Linked DNA regions of Homo sapiens: region 2 is linked to region 1. The links come from fine-mapping of genetic effects on gene expression. A gene starts in region 1. The other region holds a variant in brackets. All regions are shown on one strand. Distances are between the middles of the regions.

Region 1 (4,183 bases):
ATTGTACACCCCTTTATCTGATTAACAGAGTCTAAGTCACATGACCTAAATGCAAGAGAAACTGGGAATGGAAGTTTGTGGATTCTACCTTAGTAAGGCAAAGTTATCATTGGGAATTCCTCTAATACAGGAAGGGTGTTCCAGAGACATTAAGGAGCCATATAAATGGAAAATGTCCACTACAATCCATCACTTGGTTGCCCCACATCAACATTCATTCTTTTGCCACACTTAAAGTTTCCAAGAACAAAAATTATCCCACTGAACATAATCTTTACCATCTTTTATATAAAGGAAAATTAGACTTGACTCAGCAGAACTGAAATAACCCAGTCTCAACAGTTACTGCTTTTAACTTCAAGTACTGTGTCTCTAGGTGATACCTGCTCCAACAATAGTTTGGTCACATTTTCAATTTGATATTCTCTAGTCTCCCAACTTGATAACTGTACCCTAAACCATAAAGTTCACTACCAACATGCTATATATAAAATAACCAAAGGGGGAAGAAGAAAGAGAAAAAGGAAATCTCTTAAAATACACAGGTATACATATGACAAAGCAAAGAAGGAAATGTGAGCAGATAGCGCAGTCCTCGTTTCTGAAATTGGTCCCCTGACTGGGGCTATACCTATTCCATTTCCTCACCCTCAGCCAGGCAGGTGGAGCAAAACTTAAGTCTTGGTGGATCTGAATCTTGATGCTGTGGAGCTGTCTTACTAGCCCCAGACTACCTGCCTCTCAATTTCTAATTATATCAGTGAAAGCAAACAGCTTTGATTTGTTTAAGCCTCTGATTTTTTGGTCTAACTGATGTAAGACCACAAGACAAGAGTTCTCCAGCTCCGGATTCTCTTCTGTTCTGTTAATGGTGAAATGCCCAGAGAAGAGTTGCCAACTTTGGCAAATAAAAAATACAGGATTCCAGTTAAATTCAAATTTTAGATAAACAACAATTTTTTAGTATTAGTGTGTCCCATTCAATATTTGGACATACTTAACTAAAAAATGATTTGTTGTTCATCTGAAATACAAATTTAACTGGGCATTCTGAATATTCTCTGGCAACCCCCGAGAGAGTGAAGAAAGTGGTACAAGGACACTTAAGAAGACCAGATTTGAAAAGACATTACGGATGTGTTTAAATGTCTTATTCTAGAGAGAGTTAGAGCTGTAGGTAGAACTTGGGAAATTAAGTTAAAAGCAACAGAGGACCTGGCCAATATATACTAAGGAGTGGATCACTCTGGTCACAAGCCCAACCTGAGACCAAGGGCATAGTGAGATGATTTGGGAAAGGCACTTATACACTACTCATCCCCGTCTTTGAACTAAATGCCTTATAAATCTCCAAGAGAAATGACAGTCCACCATGTGGACTGCTTTCTGTAAGTCCAGGGAAAATAAAAGCTATGTGCTTGAAACCCACTTCTGATATTATAAGGTGTGTGATCTTTGTCATGTTAATGGGTCTGAGTATCAATTCTACAATTGTAAAGTGACAGTAATGGTGTGTCCCCAGGTTGTTGTGGAAAGCTTGATTCTTAATGCAACAGTAGGAAACCCCAACCTCTCTGGAGCAAACACCCTTCTACATCTTTACTTCCCCTGCACATTGGCAGGACTCTATTCCTCTATTTCTCTCTAGTGCTAGAGCAGAAAGGGACCTTGATTTGATATCAGGAAAATCTATTTCTGAACCATAAGCTATGATAGCTGATTTAAAAAATTGACTATCATGACATGATAATGATCATAATGGTAATACATATTGATAGGGTTGCCGTGAAAGTAATAATATATCTAAGAGTTGTGACAATATATGATACACCTAGACTCTCAGAAAATGCTAATTCCAATCCCAATTGCTCTTTGCATAAAGTTCTGTCCTAGGGTCTGTTCTTTTCCCACATCTACCCTCCTTGGATCTCTCTTCTGTCAAAAACATGTGGTTCAGAGGAGGAGAGAGATCCAGGTCAATGTTTTTCAAATTACAAGGAATTATCATTTAAATGGGGTTGTTGCTCAAGTTTTGACGTGTAGTGGAATGGAGTGGAGTGGAGTGGAATGGAAACTAACAGAAAACACTGCACATGGTTAAGATAAAGATTGTTTCCTGAAACCTTTAATTTGTGCTTACATACTCACACATACATATGTGCATGCACTGGGACTCTGCAATATGCATTTCTGACTATGGAACATAGCCATAAAAGTCTTTGCACTGAACGTTCAGTGGGCCTTTCACAAGCTGCCCTAATTGGGAAAGAAAAACATGGTCCCTCCATTTCCTGCCCCCAACTCCAGAAAAGTCACCATAGTTGAGGGTACATCTGAGAAGCCAGCACTTGGGAGTTCAGGGCTCAAGTTCCTTTCTAGAAAAACACTGGGTGATTCTAGGGGAACTTCTGATCAGAAACAGCCAATTCAGAGTGAGAGAAGAAAACGTGACCATGCAGTTCCTGTGGTTACCAGCCTTGCCCCTCTCTTGCCTTCTGGGAGTTATAAAACCCAAGACTGGAAAGGAAAACCAGCATTTGCTCAGGCAGCCTCTCTGGGAAGATGCTGCTTCTTCCTCTCCCCCTGCTGCTCTTTCTCTTGTGCTCCAGAGCTGAAGCTGGTGAGTATCAGGGTTCTTCCCTCTGAAATCTGCAGTATCAGCTCCTGAAACAAAGATGTTTAGTCTGAAAATAGCTGACTCCTAAACAGGGTTCCAAGATCTCTCTTCAAGAGTCCCAGAGGGAAATTTCCACTTGGGATGTGTGCCACCCCACCCCCACCCCCACCCACTGCCATTCTCTACAGCCTAGGACAGCCCCCAGGAACAAGGAATTTCACCTCAATTGTAGAAAAGCCCAGAGCAAGTGGAAGGAAAAGGGGTATCCCCAGGAAAACAGACATGTCCTCTTAATCTTCTGAGCATCAGGGCTACCCATTACTTTGTGACTTTCTCACTCTGTGACCATGCTCAAGAGCTATGGAGAAATCTAAAACAGGAACCTGGACAGTGGGTCCTACACAGAGACAGAGGAGGGTGGGCCAGGGCAAGGTGGGAGTGGGAGAAGTCTGAGATGAAAACATCAGAATGGAGCAGAGGCAAGAATGAGATTTCACCTGGGAGGTTATGGGTGGGGAAAGATACGAAATACAGGAGACAGGAGAGGGAAGATGGGCGGAACACAGGGTGAGAATGAGATTCCAGGGAAGCCTAGCTCAGCTTTAACCCAATTTGTCCATTCATTGGAGAGAGTATCTATGGCCGTGTTCAAACCCTGGGGTGCTCTGTTCCAGGGGAGATCATCGGGGGCACAGAATGCAAGCCACATTCCCGCCCCTACATGGCCTACCTGGAAATTGTAACTTCCAACGGTCCCTCAAAATTTTGTGGTGGTTTCCTTATAAGACGGAACTTTGTGCTGACGGCTGCTCATTGTGCAGGAAGGTGAGACAACAGGGTCTATTTATCTCCAAATGGGAGATGAACAACCAGAGTAGCATCCAGGAATACACCTGCACTGGGGACTGAAGAGGGGGTCCTGGGTCTTGTCAACTTTCAGGAGAGGGAAGACTTGGGCTGAAAGACTTTAGTCTGTGTTTGAATAGTTCCTTGAGCCTCAGTCACTGTGAGCTAAGCTCCCCTTCGGAGGAAAAGGAGGTCCTGTCCAAGGTCCCTCTTGTTGCAGTAGCACCCCTCACCCCTACCCAACTCAAGACACACGGCTCACTTTTCAGGGCCCCACCCAGTCTCAGGGCCACTTCCTCTATGGCCTTTTCAAGAACACTGGCCTCTAGTTCTCAGGGTCCTGAACCCATCATTTTATGGGAGGCAGAGAACAGGGTCTACATGAGACCCCCACTTTCCCGTTTAACTGATATCTCCTGCTTCAGGGGCTGGCCCTCATGCAGGGTTCCCTGAATTAGGAAGTGTGAACCCTGTCCCCTGAGTCCTCCCTGGCCTGTTCAGTCCCCAGCAATTCCAGGGGTCGTAGAAATTGTGTCTGTTTCCTGAGAAAGCTCTTTCATGAGTTAAGCCTGAGCCCTCAAATGCCACAAGTGGCCCATGAAAAGGGAGATGGGTAGAGTCCGGCGACCCAGTGACAGAGTTTAGTCCTCTTTTCTCAGAATGAGCTCACCTCAGAAGAAACCCCAAGCCATCACTGTCGCTCCTTTTCCTTCCTTCTTC
Region 2 (4,183 bases), 89 kb before region 1:
TAGTAAATGGTGCTGGGAAAATGGGCTAGCCATATGCAGAAAACAGAAATTGGACTCCTTCCTTACAACTTATACAAAAATTAACTCAAGATGGATTAAAGACTTAAATGTAACACCCAAAACCATAAAAACCCTAGAAGAAAACCTAGGCAATACCACTCAGGACATAGATATGGGCAAAGACTTCATGACTAAAACACTAAAAGCAATTGCAACAAAAGCCAAAATTGACAAATGGGATCTAATCAAACTAAAGAGCTTCTGCACAGCAAAAGAAACCATCATCAGAGTGAACAGACAACCTAGAGAATGGGAGAAAATTGTTGAAATCTATTCATCCAACAAAGTTCTAATATCCAGAATCTACAAGGAATTTAAACAAATTTACAAGAAAAAAACAAACAACCCCATGAACAATGAGCAAAGTATATGAACAGACACTTCTCAAAAGAAGACATTTATGAGGCCAACAAACATGAAAAAAAGCTCATCATCGCAGGTCATTAGAGAAATGCAAATCAAAACCACAATGTGACAGCGTCTCATGCCAGTTAGAATGGCAATCATTAAAAAATCAGGAAACAACAGATGCTGGAGAGGAGGTAGAGAAATGAGAACGCTTTTACAGTATTGGTGGGAGCATAAATTAGTTCAACCATTGTGGAAGACAGTGTGGTGATTCTTCAAGGATCTAGAACCAGAAATACCATTTGACCCAACAATCCCATTATGGGCCATATACCCAAAGGATTAGAAATCATTCTACTATAAAGACACATGCACACTTATGTTTATTGCAGCATTATTTGCAATAGCAAAGACTTGGAACCAACCCAAATGCCCATCAATGATAGACTGGATAAAGAAAATGTGGCACATATACACCATGGAATACTATGCAGCCATAACAAAGGATGAGTTCATGTGCTTTGCAGGGATATGGATGAAGCTGGAAACCATCATTCTCAGCAAACTAACACAGGAACAGAAAACAAAACACCACATGTTCTCACTTATAAGTGGGAGCTGACGATGAGAACACATGGACACAGGGAGGGTAACATCACACACTGGGGCCTGTCAGGGGATTGGGGGCAAGGGCAGTGAGAGCAGTAGGACAAATACCTAATGCATGAGGGGCTTAAAGCCTAGATGACGTGTTGATAGATGCAGCAAACCACCATGACACATGTATACCTATGTAACAAACCTGCACATTCCACACGTGTATCCCAGAACTTAAAGTAAAAAAAAAGACAGAGAAAGTACAAGAAATTGGGATTTTGCTATTACTTTTAATGACAAAACCACAATTGCTCTTGCACCAACCTAATAGATCTAACCAAAAAGGTTTTCATCAAGGTACATTATAGTCAAATGTCAAAAGTGAAAGACAAAGAGAGATTTTTTAAAAGCAGCAAGAGAAAAGCATGTAGTCACTTGAAAGGGAACCCCCATCAGACTAAAAGTGTGTTTCTCAGCAGACACCTTACAGACCAGGAGAATGGGATGATATATTCAAATTACTGAAAAAGAAAAAAAAATCTAGCAGTCAAGGATACTATACTCAGAAAAGCTATTCTTCCAAAATGAAGGCGATACAAGGCTTTTCCCAGACAAGAAAACACTGTGGGAATTGATCACCTCTAGACTAGTCCTAAAACAAATGCTTAAGGGAGCCCTACATCTGGAAGTGAAAGAATATTTAGCATCATGAAAACACATGAAAGTATAAAACTCACTGGTAGAAAAGATGTACAAATGAGAAAAGAAACGACTAAAATATTGCCACTACAGAAAACATTCAAATCACAATTATAAACAACAAGGGAGAAAGAAAGGAATAAAACATATACAAAAAAACAGAAAATAATAAACAAAATGACAGAAATAAATTCTCACCTATCAACAATAACCTTGAACATAAACAGATTAAATTCCCCACTGAAAACACAGATTGGCTGAATGGATTTTTAAAAACATGATCCAACTATATCCTTCCTACAAGAAACTTACTTCACCTGTAAAGACATGTAGACTGAAAGTGAAAGGATGAAAAAAAGATATTCCACATAAATGGAAACCAAAAGCAAGCAGGTGTAGCTATACTTATATCAAATAAGACAGACTGTAAGTCAAAAACAGTAAAAAGGGACAAAGAAGGTCATTATATAATCACAAAGGGATCAGCTCAGCAAAAGAATATAACAATTACAAATATATATGCACTCAACACTGGAGCACCAAGATATAAAGCAAATATTATTAGATTTAAAGGGAAAGATAGATGCCAAAACAATAG[T/C]TGGAGACTCTAACACCCTACTTTCAGCATTGGACTGGTCATCTAGACAGAAAGTCAAAAAAGAACCATTGGATTTCAACCACACTGTAGGCCATGGACCTAACAGACATCTACAGATCACTTTATCCAACCGATGCAGAATACACACTCTTCTCATCAATACATGCAACATTCTCCAGGAAAGACCACATGTTAGGCCATAAAGCAAGCCTCAATAAATTTTTAAAAATCAAAAGCATATCAAGTATCTTCTCAGACCACAATAGAATAAAAATAAAAATCAAAAACAAGAACAACTTTGGAAACTATGCAAATACATGGAAATTTAAAAACATCCTGAGCAACCATTGGATCAAGGGAGAAATCAAAAAAGTTTTTGAAATGAATGAAAATGGAAACAAAACATACCAAACCTATGTGATAAGCAAAAGCAATATTAAAAGGGAAGATTATAGTAACAAACACTACATCAAAAAAGTAGAAAGGTTTCACATAAACAACCTGGAAATGCACCTAAGGAATCAGAAAAGCAAGAACAAACCAAAATCAAAATTAGTAGAAGAAAATAAATAATAAAAAACGAGAGGAGCTAAATGAAATAGAGAAAAAGATAGAAAAGGACAGCAAAACAAAAACTTGGCTTTTTGAAAAGATAAACAAAAGCAACAAACCATTAGCTAGACTATGAAAAAAAGAAAGAAAACCCAAATAAATGAAAGCAAAAACAAAAAAGGAGACATTACAATCTGAAATAAAGAAAAAGCTAAGAACTTCATAAAAAAACTCTTAGAAATTATAAACAAATTTAGTAAATCAACATACAAAAATTAATAGCATTTCTATATACCAATAAAAATTAGCAGAAAAAGAAATCAAGATAGCAATCCTATTCACCATAGCCACCAAAAAATTCAATATTTAAGGAACAAATTTAATGAAAGAGGTGAAAGAAGAACTCTACACTGAAAACTAGAAAACACTGATAAAATAAAATGAAGATGACACAAAGAAAAGAAAAGACATCTAGAAATCATCATGGCAGACGGGAGGCAGGACTAGATTGCAGCTCCAACTCGGACAGACAGAGCAGCCTGTGGAGGGTCACACTGTGAATTTTTTCTCCATATCAATGGCAAGAACAAACCAGCAATCCCAAGAGGACCCACAGACCTCTGAAAGAAGCATACTGCTCCCGCAGGGCCCGGGAGACACCACAAATACTGTGAGTGCCCCAACTGTGGAAGTGGAAAGGGGAGATCCTCCTCTCCTTAACACACATCCCTACTGAAGAAACTGAAGCTCTGTTTGTGGGAGAAGTTTCCAACCTTACCTGGCACTGAGTCAATTTAGAGAGCTGAGTAAAATACAGGGGTAGAGGAAGCAGCAGAAAGGCTCTAAGAGCTCACTCGGTCCCCAAGCAAGACATTCCTGCCAGGGACCACACGGATCCATTGGGAGGGTGGCCAGAGGAGCAACAGGAAAATGCCACAGGAAGAAGGAAATCTCCAGCTGAACTTTGCAACAATTTGAATTGGGCAAGAAGCTTCCTGGCCAGAACTTGGGGGAGGTCATGAATCCAGTGTGCAGACTCCACAGCCTGGGGAAGAACTGAAGCCCTTTTCTTTCACAGCTGGAAGAGGTAGCCTGGGGCAAGTTCTCATGCCCAGCTCACCCACTGCCTGGAAACAGACTCAGGGTTGTTATTTGGGGCACAGTTGGAATGAGATCAGCCCTTCGATTTGCATAGGAGCTGCATGACGCCTTTGACTGCTGACTTTCCCCCACTTCCCTGGACAACCTGCATGACTCAGCAGAGGCAGCCCTAATCCTCCTAGGTACACAATTCCATTGACATGGGAAGTTCACCCCTATTCCCCACAG

Direction of the effects. Positions count from the first base shown, and alleles are read on the strand shown. Sizes are in standard deviations (SD) of each study's normalised expression.
As copies of T replace C in region 2, the expression in unexposed skin of the gene that starts at base 2,533 in region 1 goes down (small effect, 0.29 SD a copy in GTEx).

Evidence for each region. PIP is the estimated chance that this variant, and not a neighbour inherited with it, causes the effect. A credible set is the group of variants that fine-mapping cannot tell apart.
Region 2: its variant is the best candidate, but not a certain one, in a credible set for the expression of CMA1 in unexposed skin (GTEx, PIP 0.50).

Annotation. Positions count from the first base shown.
Region 1 is chr14:24,506,615-24,510,797 of GRCh38, reverse strand. CMA1 (chymase 1) reads left to right here and starts at 2,533. Exons shown (of 5, transcript NM_001836.5): 1 at 2,533-2,620; 2 at 3,292-3,442. The coding sequence starts at 2,563. RefSeq lists an enhancer at 2,725-3,924.
Region 2 is chr14:24,595,452-24,599,634 of GRCh38, reverse strand. No RefSeq gene overlaps it. Among named protein-coding and RNA genes, the nearest start is that of GZMH, 12 kb to the left of the region's middle. The variant T/C (reference allele first, on the strand shown) is at 2,303.